Regions from separate parts of the Homo sapiens genome. Here all the other regions are linked to region 1. The links come from fine-mapping of genetic effects on gene expression. A gene starts in region 1. Each other region holds a variant in brackets. All regions are shown on one strand. Distances are from middle to middle.

Region 1 (5,152 bases):
TAATAGAACCTGTTTGAAAGCTGAAGTTAGCAATGATTCTCAATTCAGAAAAGGAAAGCAACAGAATCTAGGAGTATTTGTAAGGAGCTTCTGAGAGCTACACATCCCCTCCAGCCCTCTTATGGGTAAACAACTCTGTCATCCAGAGCCACCTTCACTAAAAAAAAGTGGCTTTTTTTTTTTTTCAGTCTGTGGGTTCAGAAAAAAGAAACAAGAAACAACCCACTGGACTAGAGAGATAAACCTTTAAGCCATAAGCCCCTTGCTCCACTGCTTTAGTCTACCAGGAGTTTGACTAGAGGAACGGGCTCCTATGGCTGTGGACATTATCTAGCTGGATTCTTGTTGCAATTATCAAGCCTTGAGCAGTCATGCTCATGGAGGCTTAGACTAGGAATGCAAGCTACGATCAAGACAACAGACCTACCTCAGAAACTAACCTTGCTAGTGTCACCCTTCCTAACAAGAACATGAACCTACTTCCTCTCCTTGGTCCTCTGCCTTTTAAAGGCAGTGCTGTTTTTTCCAGGGATCTGAGGTCTAGACATGGAACAAGTATTTTGGCTACATACCTTTTTGTTTGATTTTATGACAATTCTTCTAAGCCTGTATTGCAAAGTGCTATAACACAGTTGCTTTAGGAGTAAAAAAAGTGAATGAAAACAGTTGTGTGTGTATTAACCTACAAAGTACCTCAGAGAAACTATAGACACCTGGGCTTCACATCACTATAATCCCTGGTATAGAGTAAGTTCCAGATTTCATGTCACTGGTAAATAATGGCACTCAGAAAAAAAAAAATCAAAAATGGAATCATGATAATTATTTGAAGTACATATTATTGGAGAAGTCAACATTATTTAAACAATTTCCACATAAATACTGAAGCCACCTAAAATCTTTTAATTTTTAGCAACTTGTGTTACACATTCTTAAAGAATATTATTAAATTCTCAAAATATTGGTTGTTGAGAGCTATAAAACAAACTGTATTCAACTCAGTTATTTCATTGGATTTGTTTTTTGAATATTTAATAAAATAGTTCAAACACCTAGAAAATATAGCAGATACTTATGTATACTCGAATCAAATTATATTAATATGCCCTATATCCATGAAGTTTAGTGAATTTTCCCAAATTCATCTCCAATATCAATTCGATTTTCGTTATTAAAATTAGAATGTTTTCAAACCGAAGGGGAGAGACTGATGGCAATGATAAATGTATTTGTGATATGTAGTTCAGGTTTGGATACTGCCTTCTACCTATGTCACATAGGCTGAGTGAGCTACAGAGGCACACCACTATCTGGAGTATCTAAGCAATAAACACGCTGAACCCAACACACTGGCCAACCACTCCTTCACTCTACAACAGGCTTCATATACTCTCCTGTGTTAAAGATTTTGGTAACTGCCTAAATTTTTGTTTCATTGGGCCAGTAAACCCTTTATGAATTACTACATGGCAAACATTTTTTAAAATAAAACAAAAATTCTAATAGCCCCAATCTCCCTGACCCTAACTACAAGAAAAAAAAAAAAGCCTACAATTTCATTGCTTTGCTTAAAATAGGATGTAGATATAAAATCTTTTTACAGAAAAGCATCTTTGTTCCCTTTTAACAGTGACAATCTATACACTGCCTTAATTGGGCCCCTGTATTTCTCAGCATGAATTTCATTTTTTACTGAAGATTTTCTTTAAAGCAGGTAAAACCGGTTTGTTCTTTAAAAAAAAAATCAATAAGAAAAACACTCCAGAATGAGGAGCAGGAAAATAATGCATGATAGTAAGGGGATCTCTTCAAATAAGATGATTTAATCGGTCCTCAAAGAGTTTCTAACACAGGGGCCAATCACCCAGAAGACAAACTAGCAAAATCAGTTCATGCCACAGAGCCTTTGCATTTCAATCCTTCCACACATATTGACTGGAGACTCACAGAGAAATGGTGCCTTTGCTACAGCCACCCCTTGTTCATCAGCACTGATGAGATTTGGGGAGAGCACCCAGAAATCACTAACTCTGTTTTTTAAAATACTAAATTAAAAAAAATAAAGCCAAACCTTACCAGAAAGGAGCAAGCTGACTCCACAGAGAACTAAGCTGGCTAAAGAGTCCATGCTTCCCCAAATCTCTCCATCCAGTTTCCACAAATGTGCATGAGGTCCCAAGGATCCTTTCAAAAACCCAGCGGTTTGTGACTTTCCATTAGCATCGTCCTACTACGTCTTGTTTACAAGTTAGAGGCAAGAAGGAACAGCACAGAAGCAGGCTGTAACAGTCTCATTTCTGTCTGAGCACAGGGAGTTTTAAGTTCCTTTTTCCTGTTTCCTTTGTAGATTAGGATGGGAAAGGCTGTATCTTAAAGGCATTTGGTATCAGCAGGGCTGGGGGCACTCAAGCCCTATCCATCTCGCAATTCATCAAAACACTTATCTGTTGCTGTTGCTTCTGCTGCTGCTTTTGCTGCTGCTGTAGGGGCAGAGGAATTTTTGTTGGAAGTGTGGGTCCCGGTCAGCATTTTCAGAAACAATAGGGGTATCCTCTCATAGGCGGGAAACTGAGAATAACAAGCCCTCCACCTATGTATGGTATGCGATGATGACCAATCCTTCTCAGACTTCTAACAGCTCTCCCGGGGCTACTGGGATCTCTGACAGAAGGAGCTTTTGGGTGTGGGAAGCCGTTTTGGCTTTTGTTTTCTCATTTTAACCCACATGGTTTGAATTGGGAGAAGAAGGTTTCCGTGATGAGAAAATACAACCTGAAAAGCAATTAATTTCAGTGAGCACCGGTGAGGTCAATGCTCAATGTAGCCCCAAGAGACCAGAGTCCAAAATTGTTAGCCTGTTTTCTTTCACACAGATGGCCTGTTGGTTGGCCATTAGCCCAAAGATACCCATGTTGCCGGCTATAGCTTTAATTTTCATTAACAATTCATCTAAAGGTGATCAAATTTCTTGAAGAAGTTGGCATAGAAGGATTTTGGTAATGAGAAAGATTTGGTAGTCATTGAGCAATGGTGTTTCAGAAGCAAATTATATATAACATTTAAAAACTAATCTGTGTAAAAACACAAACATACAGGATTAGATTGGGATAAAAATGGTGCTCATGAGAGCAAAGAGAGTTCATGGACCAAAATGAAAATAGCCATGGAATGTACAATATCTAGAATGAGGTCAGAGACCCTACACTTATCCAGATAATTACTCCACAATATGAATTATGACATTAGATTAGAGAGTATACACTTTGCTCATCATCGACCTTCATGCCTGAGGAAATCATTATACTCCTCCTTTTCCTACCCACCAGAGGAAAAGGCAGATGCAGCTAGTCTTGACTAATTTCTGTCCCAGGTTTTATCACATCGATGATGATCTTAAGAACCAATTAATGTTTCCAGTTTGCAGGTGTGAAAAAGCCCAGGTTCTGTCTGCAAACAGAACTGGGTTCAAATACTGGCTCAGCCACATGTGTAGCTGAGAAAAGTTACTTAGTCTTTTTGAGCCTCAGTTTCAACAGCTGTGAAATGGCAAAAATATCTCCTTCCCAGGTGTTTTGAGAGGAATAAATGAGGTTTAAAAATATAAAACCATTTGGTACTATGCCTAGTTCTTTGAAGGTTCTCATTAAATGTTAATAAGTTTATTTTCTTTCATCTTTCCATTCAGTCTCAATTTAAATTCCAAGAGCTTCTACTAAAAAGCTATTTTCTATTCCTATGAGATGACTTTAAATTTGTCATCACGAAAAAAAAAAACAAAAACAGTGGGCCTGGCACAGTGGCTCACGCCTATAATCCCAGCACTTTGGGAGTGGATCACCTGAGGTCAGGAGTTTGAGACCAGCCTGGCCAACATGGCAAAACCCCATCTCTACTAAAAATACAAAATTTAGCTGTGCTTGCTGGCGTGCACCTGTAACCCCAGCTACTCTGGAGGCTGAGGCAGGAGAATTGTTTGAACCTGGGAGGCAGAGGTTGCAGTGAGCCGAGATCGTGCCACTGCACTCCAGCCTGGGTGACAGAGCAAGACTCTGTCTAAAAAAAAAAAAAAAAAAAAGAAAAAAAAGAAAGAAAAATGAAGTTCCACACAGGCTAAGTTACTTGCTCTGCTGTGAGTAGCAGAGGTAATAATATCTGAATCCTGAGCTCTGGACCTCCAATTTTTCCCTTGTTTCATAGTTGAAAAGTAGATCAAGAGTAATGTAGGACATCACAAACACCAGCAGGGTACACCTAGACCTTACAGAAGTATTTGAAATGAAACTTTGACAGATAAGAATAGTTTGGTGACACTGAGAAGTGCGGTCAGTTCTTAGTGTGCTTCTGAAATAACTAATGTCAGGATCGGTGGGTGCTGTATTAATTCACTTCAGGAAAATGAAAGGGGCCTCCTCATGAGTCAAGCTCATTCCATTTAATTTGATTTTTCCAGACATACCTACAGTAAAAGCATAAAGAAAACCAAACCAAACTAAACAAACAAACAAGGCTCTTGGCTGATTCTTCATTTTCTATTTCCTGCTTTTTGCACTCAATACATGAAAAACACTATAGACAACATTAAAAGTCTTTGAGACTAATTAACAAAGGTATCAATAGATAACAAAACGGTTTTTCTGAAAGAGGTGGAAAATAACTTACATAATACTACTATACACTGGTATCACATGTCAAGAGGTCAACATCACAAACACAAAGCAAAAGCCTTGTATGCATACCCTTTGGCCCAGAAAATCCAGTTTTTTTTTTTTTTGAAATAGAGTCTCACTCTGTCGCCCAGGCTGGAGTGCAGTGGCACTATCTCGGCTCACTGCAACGTCCGCCTCCTGGGTTCAAGCGATTCTCCTGCCTCAGCCTCCTGAGTAGCTGGAATTACAGGCGTGCACCACCACACCCGGCTAATTTTTATACTTTTTAGTAGAGATGGGGTTTCACCATATTGGCCAGGATGGTCTTGAACTCCTAACCTCATGATCCACCCCCCCCCCCCCTTGGCCTCCCAAAGTGCTGGGATTACAGGTGTAAGCCACTGCGCCCCACCAGAAAATCCATTTTTATGATATACACCAAGCCAAAATCAAATATGTGCCCCCAAATTTGTGTATAAGGACATTATAGAAGCATAGTTGATAAT
Region 2 (5,152 bases), 120 kb before region 1:
TTGAGAGAGAAGAATCTGATTTATATCACTTAGATTTTTCAGTGTCTTAAATATTAACCTATGACTTGTTAGAATTCATATAGTTCTCTCACTTAACCTGTACTATCAGGGTCATTGTTAGGTTTATTAACAATATTTTACTTTGACACAGGAAAACATTTAATAGCATTCAACATAAAGGTAAATATCAAAATATCTAGGACAACAATGAGTTATGCATTATACTAATTGTACTCACGCCTTCCTATGAAGTCCACATTTTTAAAAAAATATATTATTGCATATGAAACCACAAACAGGCATTCTGATTTCAGCCCATTCTTAAAACAGTATATACAGTCCTATTAGAGTCAGAGCATACTACATAGATCCATGCATGGGATCTACAGTGGTGAAGGTCCCAGGTGTACAGCACATATGTACACTTATATATCACATCCTTTGGCAGAGGCATGTTTTCTCAGCAGGTGTCAAGGGTCTCCCATGCCAGTGAAAGGGAAACAGAGGGTATACAGATGTTCTGTCCTAGGCCGCTTCTTCAGCAGAACAGTCAATTCCTGCATAAGTAAACTTCTCATAAAGCGTGGTATTCACGTAGGTCTGGAAGAATGAAAATGGTTCAGAGACATAGGCTGCTTTGATTCCACCTCTGCCAGCGGCAGTTACAGCAATACCTTGGTTTTCTTAGTTTGTTGCAACTCATATACTAAGCACTTGGGGGATACTTTTCTGTCCTCAGTCCCTCTGTTGTATTTGATGACTTTCTTCCTAAAATGCATCCCCTTGCGTTCTGCAAGTAAGATTTCATACTGTATCCTCAGTTTCTGAGCTTGCCTTTCTCACAGTGTCTTATTGGTACCTCCTAATGTGTTCAGCTTCCCTAGGGTTCCTTCTTCTGGGTTCCTTCCTCTGTCTGAATCTCATTTTCACATCTGTGTGATCTCACCTGCATCTCTAGTTGAATTACCACTTGGGTTTTGATGACTATTTCTTTAAACTGTGTTTACTTTTATTTTGACTCCCAGATCGGTACAGCCAACTTACTTCTAGAAATTTTTATGGAGTTCCTGACCCTCATTATAGTAACCTGCAGGTCAGGCTCTGTTGTCTACTTGCTGTGTGTCCTTGGTCAAGTCACCCACTTCTGAGTCTGTTTCTTCATCTATAAAATTAAAGGGTCAGGCTATATGACGAAAATTCCTTCCAACTCTAATAGGCTAATTCTGTATGTTATTCTAGTGTGTACGTGACTGTATCTTGTATAGAAATCTTATTTCCCCCCAAAATTGTAACTTCTTCAAAGTCGCGGGGGTGGAGGGACATCCTTTGTTTCTATAATACTTAGGGCCATGCCAAGAAGAACTTCTTCAATTATTTCAATGTTTTTTATGAACCACCCTGGGCACATCAGGTATTCCAATTAAAGATCTCCTGCCTGACTTTAATACTTACCTTTCGCTCCTCTAACATTCTGTTTAAGGACACCAATATCTGGGCAAATGATGGCCTCTCATAAGGCTTCTCCCGCCAGCATTGTCTCATTAGATCATACCTTCGAAAGCAAAGAATTAAAGGGTTAATTCTATAACTGTGCTTCAGTCCTAGGCACGGCAGGAAAAGAGAGGAGAGAATGAAGCCACCCAATGCATGGTTATGAAGCTTAACCAAAGTACAGCCCCTAGGAAGTTTCTATGAGGACTCCCACCTCCCTAAGCCAGTCTCATTTCAACTCCTCATAGATTTAGTTCCTACCCTCGGTACTGTTTCTGCAGGACCTTGGTCTCAGCTATTGCAATCATCTAGAAAGAACTGGGTATGTGTCTAGAGCAGCATTTGCCTTGGAATGCTGCATATTTCAAAATGTTAGTGTCTCTTAAAGGGCCCATGCTCAAACTTGTAAAATGCCACCCACATAAAGTCCCTTTAAGAGGCAGGACTTTTAGAAGCACTGTCATTAAAAACAAAAAAATGCCTGTTTAACCAGGTGCTATGGACTGAATGTTCATGCCACCCAAAAATCATGTGTTGAAACCATGTGATGGTGTTTGAAGGTAGGTCCTTTGGGAGGTGATCAGGTCATGAGGGTAGAACCCTCATGAATGGGATTCGTGCTCTTACACAAAAGGCCTCAAAGAGCTCTTTTGCCCCTAGTGCCACGTGAGGACACAGCAGAAAGATGGCCATCTATGAGCTAGGAAATGGCTCATGGCCACCAAATCTGCTAGCGCTTTGATCTTGGATTTCCCAGCCTTCAGAACTGTGAGAAATACATCTCTGTTGTTTATAAGCCACCATGTTTATGGTATGTTGTTACAGCAGCCGGAAATGACTAAGACAACAGGTTTAACACAAAGTTTCCAAAGTAATTGACCGCAGAACTCCTTTCCCCTTGCATCATGTATTTATATCTTGCACAACACGTGAAAACATAGTTTGGGAAACACTGACCTAAGACAGTGCTTACTCAGTTGTGCTCAGAACTACTCTGTTATTAAAATGCAGAATTCTGGAACCTGCCCTAAACTTACAGAATCAATGACTGACAGTGGGGACCAAGAGCCCACATGCTGAACAAATGACTCTGGGGAACCTTATGTGCATGGAAGGCTATCAACCATTGGCTTAGGGTGTCACAGATCCCAGAACAGCTTACACTTTAACATAAGTTTCTTAAAGACTAAAAAATCTTCTCACCCCTTATGAAGTGAATCTCAAAAGGTGGAATTTTAGGGACTGTCTAGTGATGGTCAACTATGTCCAGGTTTTTCCAGGATGGTATGTATGCTTCTTGCTCCAGTGAGATTAACACCCTCCTTCACTCTTAGAAGTAGCTCCATTTAGACAATAAATTATCTGCTCAACCTAGAGCCTTGCAGTCTTCAAACATGCCAGTTAGCTTCTACCACGGATAGTTCTGGGAATGCTGGTATCACTACAGTTCATTATTCTTACCCTTGGAATAAATCTTACTTTTGAAAGTAATCTTAGCAGAAGCAAGGTTCTAGGCAAGAAAATGTATCTTTATTTTTTTATTATTATACTTTCAGTTCTGGGATACAT[G/A]TGGAGAACATGCAGGTTTGTTACATATGTATACAAGTGCCATGGTGGTTTGCTGCACCCATCAACCTGTCATCTACATTAGGTATTTCTCCTAATGCTATCCCTCCCCTAGCCCCCACCCCCCGATAGGCGTGTGATATTCCCCTCCCTGTGTCCATGTGTTCTCATCCTTAAACTCCAACTTATGAGTGAGAACATGCAATGTTTGGTCTTCTGTTCTTGTGCTAGTTTCCTGAGAATGTTGGTTTCCAGCTTCATCCATGTCCGTCCAAAGGACAAGAACTCATCCTTTCTTATGGCTGCATAGTATTCCATGGTGTATATGTGCCACGTTTTCTTTATCCAGTTTATCATTGATGGGCATTTGGGTTGGTTCCAAGTCTTTGCTATTGTGAACAGTGCTGCAATAAACATACGTGTGCATGTGTCTTTATAGTAGAATGATTTATAATCCTGTGGGTATATTCCCAGTAATGGGATGGCTGGGTCAAATGGTATTTCTAATTCTAGATCCCTGAGGAATCGCCACACTGACTTCCACAATGGTTGAGCTAATTTACACTCCCACCAACAGTGTAAAAGCATTCCTATTTCTCCACATCCTCTCCAGCATCTGTCATTTCCTGACTTTTTAATGATTGCTATTCTAACTGGTGTGAAATGGCATCTCATTGTGGTTTTGATATGCATTTCTCTAATGACCAGTGATGATGAGCTTTTTTCATGTTTGTTGTCTGCATAAATATCTTCTTTTGAGAAGTGTCTGTCCATATCCTTTGCCCACTTTTTGATGGGGTTGTTTTTTTCTTGTAAATTTGTTGAAGTGCTTTGTAGATTCTGGATATTAGCCCTTTGTCAGAAGGATAGATTGCAAAAATTTTCTCCCATTCTGTAGGTTGCCTGTTCACTCTGATGGTGGTTTCTTTTGCTGTGCAGAAGGTCTTTAGTTTAATTAGATCCCATTTGTCAATTTTGGCTTTTGTTGCCATCGCTTTTGGTGTTTTAGTCATGAAGTCTTTGCCCATGCCTATGTCCTGAATGGTATTGCCCAGGTTTTCTTCTAGGGTTTTTATGGTTTTAGATTTTACGTTTGTCTTTAATCCATCTCGAGTTAATTTTTTATAAGGTGTAAGGAAGGGGTCCAATTTCAGTTTTCTGCATATGGCTAGCCAGTTTTCCCAACGCCATTTATTAAATAGGGAATCCTTTCCCCATTGCTTGTTTTTGTCAGGTTTGTCAAAGATGAGATGGTTGTAGATGTGTGGTGTTATTCCTGAGGCCTCTGTCTTGTTCCTTTGGTCTATATATCTGTTTTAGTACCAGTACCATCCTGTTTTGGTTATTGTAGCCTTGTAGTATAGTTTGAAGTCAGGTAGCTTGATGCCTCCAGTTTTGTTCTTTTTGCTTAGGATTGTCTTGGCTATGCAGGCTCTTTTTTGGTTCCATATGAAATTTAAAGCAGTTTTATCTAATTCTGTGAAGAAAGTCAATGGTAGCTTGATGGGGATAACACTGGGCAGTGTGGCCATTTTCACAATATTGATTCTTCCTGTCCATGAGCATGGAATGTTTTTCCATTTGTTTGTGTCCTCTCTTATTTCCTTGAGCAGTGGTTTGTAGTTCTCCTTGAAGAGGTCCTTCACATCCCTTGTAAGTTGGATTCCTAGATATTTTATTCTCTTTGTAGCAGTTGTGAATGAGAGTTCACTCATGGTTTGGCTCTCTGTTTGTCTGCTATTGGTGTATAGGAATGCTTGTGATTTTTGCACACTGATTTTGTATCCTGAGACTTTGCTGAAGTTGCTTATCAGCTTAAAGAGATTTTGGGCTGAGACAATGGGGTTTTCTAGAAATACAATCATGTCATCTGCAGACAGAGACAGTTTGACTTCCTCTCTTCCTATTTGAATGCCCTTTCTTTCTTTCTCTTGCCTGACTGCCCTGGCCAGAACTTTCAATCCTACGTTGAACAGGAGGGGCGAGAGAGGGCATCCTTGTCTTATGCCGGTTTTCAAAGGGAATGCTTCCAGCTTTTGTCCATTCAGTGTGATACTGGCTGTGGGTTTGTCATAAACAGCTCTTAATATTTTGA
Region 3 (5,152 bases), 130 kb before region 1:
AGAGCTTTCTTGGGGTAAGACACAAGTAAAGAAATGAAAACTATTACACCATTTTAGAAGCATTGACCATACGACTTTCTCACCCAATCTCAGATATCATTTATTATTCTCACCAGAACTATACAGCTTTATGTTTTGGGTAAATTTTATCTACTTTTTAAAACCATATAAACTTGTGCCTAAAGTTGTTCTTTTATTTAGAGAGATTACTTTTTTTTTTCTTTTTTTAACCATTCGACATTTCTGGCTTCTAGGCAGATGTCTTGCTTTGGTGATCCCTCCACTTTCTTCTCATACCTCCCTGGGAAGGAGATACACAGCTGAGGGTACCGATGTGCTAGCCAATCATTGCAAGGTAGTGATAATGTGACAGAGGAAAGACTACCTAGAAAAAGAACAATGTTTGTTAATCTAGTACATTCATGTAAAACATTTATAAAGCAATCATTGGAGGTTGTATTAGGTATTAATGATATTTCGATAGGTGAGCAGTGTTAACTTTGTTAGAAACATAAATTGAAGGCTTAATTTTGAGAAATATGTAAGTAACATCAGAGATTATGGTTGTCTTATGTCTAACACTTTAAAAAATATTCTGTACTATTTGGAGGTCACAATGCTAGTGAAAATGCAAAAGCCTGCATGGATCTGGTCATTTGGAAGGTAAAAGAAGACGTGAAAGGAAAGAAGTAGTCACCTTGCCCAAGAACATCTTTAATTTCTGAATTGCTGTTTCGGTGACTTCTCTGGCCCCTACTACTGGCAGTAGAGTTTGGTCGATGATGGTATGGGGTTTCTGGACACTTTCAAAGAGAAGAAGAGGAAAAGCGCTGTTGAGGTTGAGTTACTACATTTTTTTATTACACTTTAAGTTTTAGGGTACATGTGCACAACGTGCAGGTTAGTTACGTATGTATACATGTGCCATGTTGGTGTGGTGCACCCATTAACTCGTCATTTAACATTAGATATATCTCCTAATGCTATCCCTCCCCCTGCCCCCACCCCACAACAGGCCCCGGTGTGTGATGTTCTCCTTCCTGTGTCCATGTGTTCTCATTGTTCAATTCCCACCTATGAGTGAGAACAGGCGGTGTTTGGTTTTTTGTCCTTGTTATAGTTTGCTGAGAATGATGGTTTCCAGCTTCATCCATGTCCCTACAAAGGACATGAACTCATCATGTTTTATGGCTGCATAGTATTCCATGGTGTATATGTGCCACATTTTCTTAATCCAGTCTATCATTGTTGGACATTTGGGTTGGTTCCAAGTCTTTGCTATTGTGAATAGTGCCTCAATAAACTTACATGTGCATGTGTCTTTATAGCAGCATGATTTATAATTCTTTGGGTATATACCCAGTAATGGGATGGCTGAGTCAAATGGTATTTCTAGTTCTAGATCCCTGAGGAATCACCACACTGACTTCCACAATGGTTGAACTAGTTTACAGTCCCACCAACAGTGTAAAAGTGTTCCTTTTTCTCCACATCCTCTCCAGCACCTGTTGTTTCCTGACTTTTTAATGATCGCCATTCTAACTGGTGTGAGATGGTATCTCATTGTGGTTTTGATTTGCATTTCTCTGATGGCCAGTGATGATGAGCATTTTTTCATGTGTCTTTTGGCTGCATAACGTCTTCTTTTGAGAAGTGTCTGTTCATATCCTTTGGCCACTTTTGGATGGGGTTGTTTGTTTTTTTTCTTGTAAATTTGTTTGAGTTCATTGTAGATTCTGGATATTAGCCCTTTGTCAGATGAGTAGATTGCAAAAATTTTCTCCCATTCTGTAGGTTGCCTGTTCGCTCCAATGGTAGTTTCTTTTCCTGTGCAGAAGCTCTTTAGTTTAATTAGATCCCATTTGTCAATTTTGGCTTTTGTTGCCATTGCTTTTGGTGTTTTAGACATGAAGTCCTTGCCCATGCCTATGTCCTGCATGGTATTGCCTAGGTTTCCTTCTAGGGTTTTTATGGGTTTAGGTCTGACATTTAAGTCTTTAATCCATCTTGAATTAATTTTTGTATAAGGTGTAAGGAAGGGATCCAGTTTCAGCTTTCTACATATGGCTAGCCAGTTTTCCCAGTACCATTTATTAAATAGGGAATTGTTTCCCCATTGCTTGTTTTTGTCAGGTTTGTCAAAGATCAGATGGTTGTAGATATGCGGCGTTATTTCTGAGGGCTCTGTTCTGTTCCGTTGGTCTATATCTCTGTTTTGGTAACAGTACCATGCTGTTTTGGTTACTGTAGCCTTGTAGTATAGTTTGAAGTCAGGTAGTGTGATGCCTCCAGCTTTGTTCTTTTGGCTTAGGATTGACTTGGCAATGAGGGCTCTTTTTTGGTTCCATATGAACTTTAAAGTAGTTTTTTCCAATTCTGTGAAGAAAGTCATTGGTAGCTTGATGGGGATGGCATTGAATCTATAAATTACCTTGGGCACTATGGCCATTTTCACATTGTTGATTCTTCCTACCCATGAGCATGGAAT[TG/G]TTCTTCCATGTATTTGTATCCTCTTTTATTTCATTGAGCAGTGGTTTGTAGTTCTCCTTGAAGAGGTCCTTCACATCCCTTTTGAGTTGGATTCCTAGGTATTTTATTGTCTTTGAAGGAATTGTGAATGGGAGTTCACTCATGATTTGGCTCTCTGTTTGTGTGTTATTGGTGTATAAGAATGCTTGTGATTTCTGCACATTGATTTTGTATACTGAGACTTTGCTGAAGTTGCCTATCAGTTTAGGGAGATTTTGGGCTGAGACAATGGGGTTTTCTAGATATACAATCATGTCATCTGCAAACAGGGACAATTTGACTTCCTCTTCTCCTAACTGAATACCCTTTATTTCTTTCTCCTGCCTGATTGCCCTGGCCAGAACTTCCAACACTATGTTGAATAGGAGTGGTGAGAGAGGGCATCCTTGTCTTGTGCCAGTATTCAAAGGGAATGCTTCCAGTTTTTGCCCATTCAGTAAGATATAGGCTGTGGGGTTGTCATAGACAGCTCTTATTATTTTGAGATACATCCCTTCAATACCTAATTTATTGAGAGTTTTCAGCATGAAGGGTTGTTGAATTTTGTTAAAGGCCTTTTCTGCATCTATTGAGATAATCATATGGTTTTTGTCGTTGGTTCTGTTTATATGCTGGATTACGTTTATTGATTTGCTTATGTTGAACCAGCCTTGCATCCCAGGGATGAAGCCCACTTGATCATGTTGGATAAGCTTTTTGATGTGCTGCTGGATTCGGTTTGCCAGTATTATATTGAGGATTTTTGCATCAATGTTCATCAGGGATATTGATCTAAAATTCTCTTTTTTTGTTGTGTCTCTGCCAGGCTTTGGTATCAGGATGATGCTGGCCTCATAAAATGAGTCAGGGAGGATTCCCTCTTTTTCTGTTGATTGGAATAGTTTCAGAAGGAATGATACCAGCTCCTCCTTGTACCTCTGGTAGAATTCGGCTGTGAATCCATCTGGTCCTGGACTTTTTTTGGTTGGTAAGCTATTAATTATTGCCTCAATTTCAGAGCCTGTTACTGGTCTATTCAGAGATTCAACTTCTTCCTGGTTTAATCTTGGGAGGGTGTATGTGTCGAGGAATTTATCCATTTCTTCTAGATTTTCTAGTTTATTTGCATAGAGGTGTTTATAGTAGTCTCTGATGGTAGTTTGTATTTCTGTGGGATTGGTGGTGATATCCCCTTTATCATTTTTTATTGCATCTATTTGATTCTTCTCTGTTTTCTTCCTTATTAGTCTTGCTAGCGGTCTATCAATTTTGTTGATCTTTTCAAAAAACCAGCTCCTGGATTCATTGATTTTTTTGAAGGCTTTTTTGTGTCTCTATTTCCTTCAGTTCTGCTCTGATTTTAGTTATGTCTTGCCTTCTGCTAGCTTTTGAATGTGTTTGCTCTTGCTTCTCTAGTTCTTTTAATTGTGGTGTTAGGGTGTCAATTTTAGATCTTTCCTGCTTTCTCTTGTGGGCATTTAGTGCTATAAATTTCCCTCTACACACTGCTTTGAATGTGTCCCAGAGATTCTGGTATGTTGTGTCTTTGTTCTCATTGGTTTCAAAGAACATCTTTATTTCTGCCTTCATTTCGTTATGTACCCAGTAGTCATTCAGGAGCAGGTTGTTCAGTTTCCATGTAGTTGAGCTGTTTTGAGTGAGTTTCTTAATCCTGAGTTCTAGTTTGATTGCACTGTGGTCTGAGAGACAGTTTGTTATAATCTCTGTTCTTTTACATTTGCTGAGGAGTGCTTTACTTCCAAGTATGTGGTCAATTTTGGAATAGGTGTGGTGTGGTGCTGAAAAGAATGTATATTCTGTTGGTTTGGGGTGGAGAGTCCTGTAGATGTCTATTAGGTCTGCTTGGTGCAGAGCTGAGTTCAATTCCTGGACACCCTTGTTAACTTTCTGTCTCGTTGATCTGTCTAGTGTTGACAGTGGGGTGTTAAAGTCTCCCATTATTATTGTGTGGGTGTCTAAGTCTCTTTGTAGGTCTCTAAGGATTTGCTTTATGAAACTGGGTGCTCCTGTATTGGGTGCATATAGATTTAGGATAGTTAGCTCTTCTTGTTGAATTGATCCCTTTACCATTATGTAATGGCCTTCTTTGTCTCTTTTGATCTTTGTTGGTTTAAAGTCTGTTTTGTCAGAGACTAGGATTGCAACCCCTGCCTTGTTTTGTTTTCCATTTGCTTGGTAGATCTTCCTCCATCCCTTTATTTTGAGCCTATGTGTGTCTCTGCACGTGAGATGGGTTTCCTGAATAAAGCACCCTGATGGGTCTTGACTCTTTATCCAATTTGCCAGTCTGTGTCTTTTATTTGGAGCATTTAGCCCATTTACATTTAAGGTTAATATTGTTATGTGTGAATTTGATCCTGTCATTATGATGTTAGCTGGTTATTTTGCTCATTAGTTGATGCAGTTTCTTCCTAGCCTTGATGGTCTTTACGATTTGGCATGTTTTTGCAGTGGCTGGTACTGGTTGTTCCTTTCCATGTTTAGTGCTTCCTTCAGGAGCTGTTTTAGGGCAGGCCTAGTGGTGATAAAATCTCTCAGCATTTGCTTGTCTGTAAAGGATTTTATTTTTCCTTTACTTATGAAGCTTAGTTTGGCTGGATATGAAATTCTGGGTTGAAAATTC
Region 4 (5,152 bases), 83 kb before region 1:
CCCCATACGCCTCCCTGTCTGCCCCTTTCTGCACTATGTTCAGAAAGTGTTCTCTTCCTTCCCCTCCCGGACTCCCTGGCCTTCACCATCTCAATCAACACACATAAACAGTGCAACTGCCAGACGAAATGAAAAGCAAACAGCAGCAAAATTCAAATGATGGGAAAAGAAGAACCTTCAATAATCCCCTTCCCGCCTACCCCTGAGAACTACTTTGAAATATTCTGAGAGACCTCCTGGCTGCAACACATTCTGAGGGCTGAAGACAGTACAGTGTGGGGCTGTGAAGTGTTTTATGTTCTGTTCCATAAATACTTTCCATCTGAGTCAGTTTATGCTCTTCCCCTCTTGACTCACCAACAGTGACTTGAGAGAGAATTAACTACCATTTGCCTTTTAGCAGTAACATGATGACATATCAGGGATCCCTTGGGTCATGGTTGTAGAGGTCCCTTTTTCCTCTCTATATAGTTTCTGGGTTTATTTTTTATATTCACAACCAGGTGGGTCCCCAAGCAGCCATTTCTTACTTGTGTGTAATGCTTCTATAAGTCTCAGAGTAGCTTTTGAGTCTCATTTGGTTCTTTAAGGATGCTGCTAGTAACATAAAAACTAGGTGGGTGGTGTGAAGGAAGGATGTTTCTGTTAAGGGTGCACAATCTCTGCAGAAGAAAAGTGGATGTTCTTCCTGGTTTTTTCACTCAATCATAACATATCCTTCTACTTTTAGTAAATGGAGTAAAACACAGGCAAATATGTGAACTGGGATAATAAGCTGGTGCCTTTGGGATTCTAGGTAGAAATAATAATTGGAGAAACAAAAGGATATGGAGCCTGGACTGGGAGTGGTGACTCATCCCTGTAATCCTAACACTTTGAGAGGCCAAGGCTGGGGGACTGCTTGAGGCAGGAGTTTAAGACCAGCCTGGGCAACAAAGCAAGACCCCGTCTCTACAAAAAAAATTTTTTGAAGTAGCCAGATGTGGTGGTGTGCCTGTAGTCCCAGCTACTCAGGAAGCTGAGGTGGGAGGATGACTTGAGCCCAGGAGATAGAGGCTGTAATGAGTGTTGATCAAACCACTGCACTCTCCAGCTTGAGTGACAGAGCAAGATCCTGGCTCTAAAAGACAAAGATATGAAGCCCGAAGATTTAGTATGGTGATGCATCTTACTGTTATTAAGTACTCTGAGTCTCTACTTTTCAATCTGTAAAATAGGGAAGATGATAATTCTTACTTTCCTAGGTGATATAAATCAAATATATATGAAGTTGAAAGTATAAAGTACTGACCAAGAGAGAGTAACAGAATGGTTATACACAGTGAACAATTCAAAGAACCAGGAATGGAACCTTACAAAAGATCACTCCAGTATTTCAATGGAGGGTACCTGGGTAACAGAAAGCTGGAGGTCAGGTTAGCATCAAGGAGGCTTCACAGAGTTAATTAACGCAATAGAAGGCCAGTCAATACCAAACACCACTGAGAAGTCCAGAAGTAATTTTACACATGTTATCTAGAACGTGTGGACCCAGGACCAGCAGCATCACTTGGGAACCTACTAGAAATGCAAATTTTTGAACCCCGGCCCCATCCTCACCTCAAAACCATTGAATCCGAAACTCTGGGGACGAGGCCCAGAAACATCTTTTAACAAACTCTCTGAGTGATTCTGATGGACACTTAGGTTTGAGAACCACTGATTTAGAAAAGGGAGGTAAATATAAGAAATAGCTTAAGGAGATGAAAGTGGCTACCTATAGGAAGCAGGACTGGGAGGTGGAGGGTGGAGCAGGAGAATGCTGTTCTTTAGATAAAAGCTTCTTATTCTATTTGATGTCATGACTCTGACCATGAATTACTTTGAAAAATTGGAAATTATTTTTGAAAATAAATAAACTGGGACTTCTAAAATATGCCTGTGGCAAGAGCCTGGTCTGGGCCCTTAAGATGGAAACAGGAAGCCAGTGATAAAATGCAGGAGCTGAAGCTCAGCACAGTTGCTGCTGTGTAAATCCCAGCTCCTAGGGGAGGCCCTGCCTTCCTGAAGGCTCATCTGCTTCCTTCTCTGTCCCTACAGAGTGCTGCAGACCTCCTCCCCCAGGGAGACAGACCAGGAGTCCAACCCAAATAAAGGAACAGTTTGGCTTGAAGTTGCTAGCCTTCCTGTCACTTTCCCACCCATTCAAAAGCGAACTCCTGCCACCTCCATCCCCACCCACCCACTCACCCACCACCACCCTTCCTGGTCTTCCTTCCTCTTTC[C/T]CCTTCCTCCCCCTCCCACCCAGCTCATGAATAAATGCCTGTTGGCTTCCACTGACCGATAGAAGCTGTTGTGAAGCGTCTCACAGGTCCAGGATGCCCTTCCCCACCCTCTCCACGACGGACCAGTTGCACACAGAGTTCATATTCTGTCCGAGGTTCCAAATAGTTGAGTGTAACAATCTCATTTGTCACTGAGAAGAGAAAACGTCCAGGAAACTTAAGTTGGCATTCTCTTACATTCCTTAAGCCGGGGTTGTTGTTATTGCGATGTGAACTAATTTTAGGTTTTCAAAACTACGTCTTAGTGAAACAGAGAGGCAATTCCATCTTCAAGGCCTCATCCTTCCCAATATGAGGAAAATTAGGCTTTTGAAATGTTTCCAGGTTACAATGTACACATTAAAGTGTGTATTTCTGTGCCACTTACACATTTCTGCTCTGGTGCTTTTGTCTTTTCATTTGTAGAATAAAACCTCACAAATCTATATGGAATACCAGATTGGGGGAATACTCAATTAGAATAATTTAATTGCTACTGTTTTCAAGTATGTACACTGATTGCAATCAAGCTATCGAGAGAAAAAGATGCTTAGGAGGTTTGCTCAAAATGACCAGAAAACTGATTTGCAATGGTCATACTATTACAATGAAGCATTCTGAAGTCCTTGAAAATAGCACCCATAAACAAATGGTATCTGTCTCTTTTCTCCTTACCTATTTGCTTTAGTCAGCCTCTGTTTCTCCATGGATACTGCAAAGATAAATTTCTGCCTTATCATATGATAAATTCCTACTTGGTAAGAAAAAAAACTGGGATGTGTTTAACAGTTCTTAGAAGACCACTTTGTGGATGTCCACTTGTAGACAAAGGTGATGGATTATTACCACCATATGACAGCAAAAGACCTAGCCATTGATGTTGGAAACAGCAATTCAGCAAATCAGCCTGACATCCCTGGAATTCTGAATTTTGATAGAATCTACAATAGTATGTGAAGGACTCAGTAATAATACCATTTTATTCGGTCTACCCAGGTCAGCTAGTGTTATTCAGCCCAAAACCCTCCTCCTCTTCTCTTTTTTTTTTTCCATAGTTTTCTTAATTATCTCCATATAGTGAATAGAGGGTCATTTTAAGGAAATCATAGGCATAGTAAGACAAAGGTATGGGCGGAGGAGGACATGCTGCCTACAAGCATGTTAGTGGCAGGTCTTTTTACAGAATAGTCCAATTGAAGCAGCATGGTCACTGATAATGCTCTTTGCTTTTTAAAATTGTGATTTTACATTATCATACAACAAATATAATTGTAATTTGTGTTTCAAAATAAATTCAACTGTTTTCATGAACTTTTGGCATTTTGTCACATTTTGTTCAATTATTTTTTTCTTTCAGGAAGTTAGGGGAGGGGTCTGTAGCTCCCTTTGCCTGTCCTTGTCCTCCCCCGAGCCCATTCCAGTCTGCCACAGCCCAAACTTTGCAGGTTCAAATTCCTTCAAAAATCTCTCTGTGTTAAGAGTCTGCAGGACAGGGCAAGACATGAAATGAGAAAAGGAATAAACAACTCAATACAGCAGCAACAATCACCCCCAGGATTTAGGCAGATTAAGCCTCTCTGCCCTTCCAGCAGGCTCTGGACTTTCCTGCTACCATATTCATGGCATAAACAAGTGCCTTTCCCCATGACCAGCCAAGATAGAATAACTAAAAACAGGACTGGAGATCCAAAAAGAAATATTGATATAGATAGTAACTCATGGTGTGAGCTGGTTCTGTGTTCTAGAGCGCACAGTGACTTCAGAAAGTTAGCCCCAGAGCTCAGGGGCCCCCTGCACTCTCTCTTGAATACTCTGAAACAGAATCCTCTGCAACAGCCACCACCTTGAGGTAGAGGATTGAGGCAGGGAGAAGGGAATTTCTAGATTTGGAGAAAAATAATTCTCCTGGTGCCACATCCCCAGCTGGCATCTATCCTGTCCAAAGCTTACCTTGAATATGTTGCCAAGCCTCATAGTGATTAACGGGTTTGTATAGAAGCTTCTTGGATTTGATTGGTCCATCCCCAAAGTAAGGCTCAGAGCTGATGTTGATGACAGCAAAGTTATGTCCAGTGTCAATCACGTTTGGGGCATTCAGGGGCTTTGGAAGAACTAAATACAATTTCAGAAGGCAGATTAGTCCTTCGGCTTTGAGGTTTTGTGATTGTTCTTAGGTAGAGGTAGAAGATATGTTTTACATGTCCAACAAAGTCCTCTTAAAGTTTTCTGCTCAGACTCAGTGAGATCACCTGCTCTCTAAGCTCTCTGCTTTGCTTTTGCTTCCCCAACCCATTATCCTCAAAGTGCTTCCTTAAAATAAATGTGCCCCTTTGCTCAAGACCCTTCAATGGATTCTCATCACATGTAGGATAAAACCAAAAATTCATATCGTGACCAGCCAGGCCTTGAGTGATTAAGCCCCTGCCCACTCTCCAGCCTCCTCTTCCCCTCACCTAGTACCCTCCAGTCCCACTGACCTTTCACTTCATCCAACTAACAAAGCACGAACCTCCTTTCTTTAGATTGATTGTGGATGTCTCTCTTCTGCAAGGAATGCTCCACCTCCCATTATTCTCCCAGTTAATTCTTAGCTCTGATGTGAATATTTCACAGGTGGCTATCATAGAAACTGAATTAAGGTATTGTATACTTTCACAGAACCTCTACTTTTCCTTCATGGTGATTTTTAGGGGTTATTACTCTTTGTAGTATGATTATTTGATTATTTGATATTGGTCTTTCTTCTAGATCATAATTCATTCTCTCTCTATATATATATATCTCTCTCTTTCAGCCAAACAACTCAAATTTATTATAGTTCTAGAAGTCAGAAGTCAGACATGCATCTC

What was found.
Region 2: its variant is fine-mapped to the expression of TEK in whole blood (TOPMed, PIP 0.90).
Region 3: its variant is fine-mapped to the expression of TEK in whole blood (INTERVAL, PIP 0.99).
Region 4: its variant is fine-mapped to the expression of TEK in whole blood (TOPMed, PIP 0.97).

The regions. Positions count from the first base shown.
Region 1 is chr9:27,106,567-27,111,718 of GRCh38, reverse strand. It overlaps TEK (TEK receptor tyrosine kinase), which reads right to left and starts at 2,494. Exons shown (of 23, transcript NM_000459.5): 1 at 2,077-2,494. The coding sequence starts at 2,128.
Region 2 is chr9:27,224,606-27,229,757 of GRCh38, reverse strand. TEK (TEK receptor tyrosine kinase) reads right to left here. Exons shown (of 23, transcript NM_000459.5): 22 at 1,453-1,552; 23 at 1-600. The coding sequence ends at 526. Among named protein-coding and RNA genes, the nearest start is that of EQTN, 70 kb to the left of the region's middle. The variant G/A (reference allele first, on the strand shown) is at 3,061.
Region 3 is chr9:27,241,221-27,246,372 of GRCh38, reverse strand. It overlaps the pseudogene REXO6P. Among named protein-coding and RNA genes, the nearest start is that of EQTN, 53 kb to the left of the region's middle. The variant TG/G (reference allele first, on the strand shown) is at 2,489.
Region 4 is chr9:27,189,792-27,194,943 of GRCh38, reverse strand. TEK (TEK receptor tyrosine kinase) reads right to left here. Exons shown (of 23, transcript NM_000459.5): 10 at 4,254-4,415; 11 at 2,321-2,455. Among named protein-coding and RNA genes, the nearest start is that of TEK, 83 kb to the right of the region's middle. The variant C/T (reference allele first, on the strand shown) is at 2,265.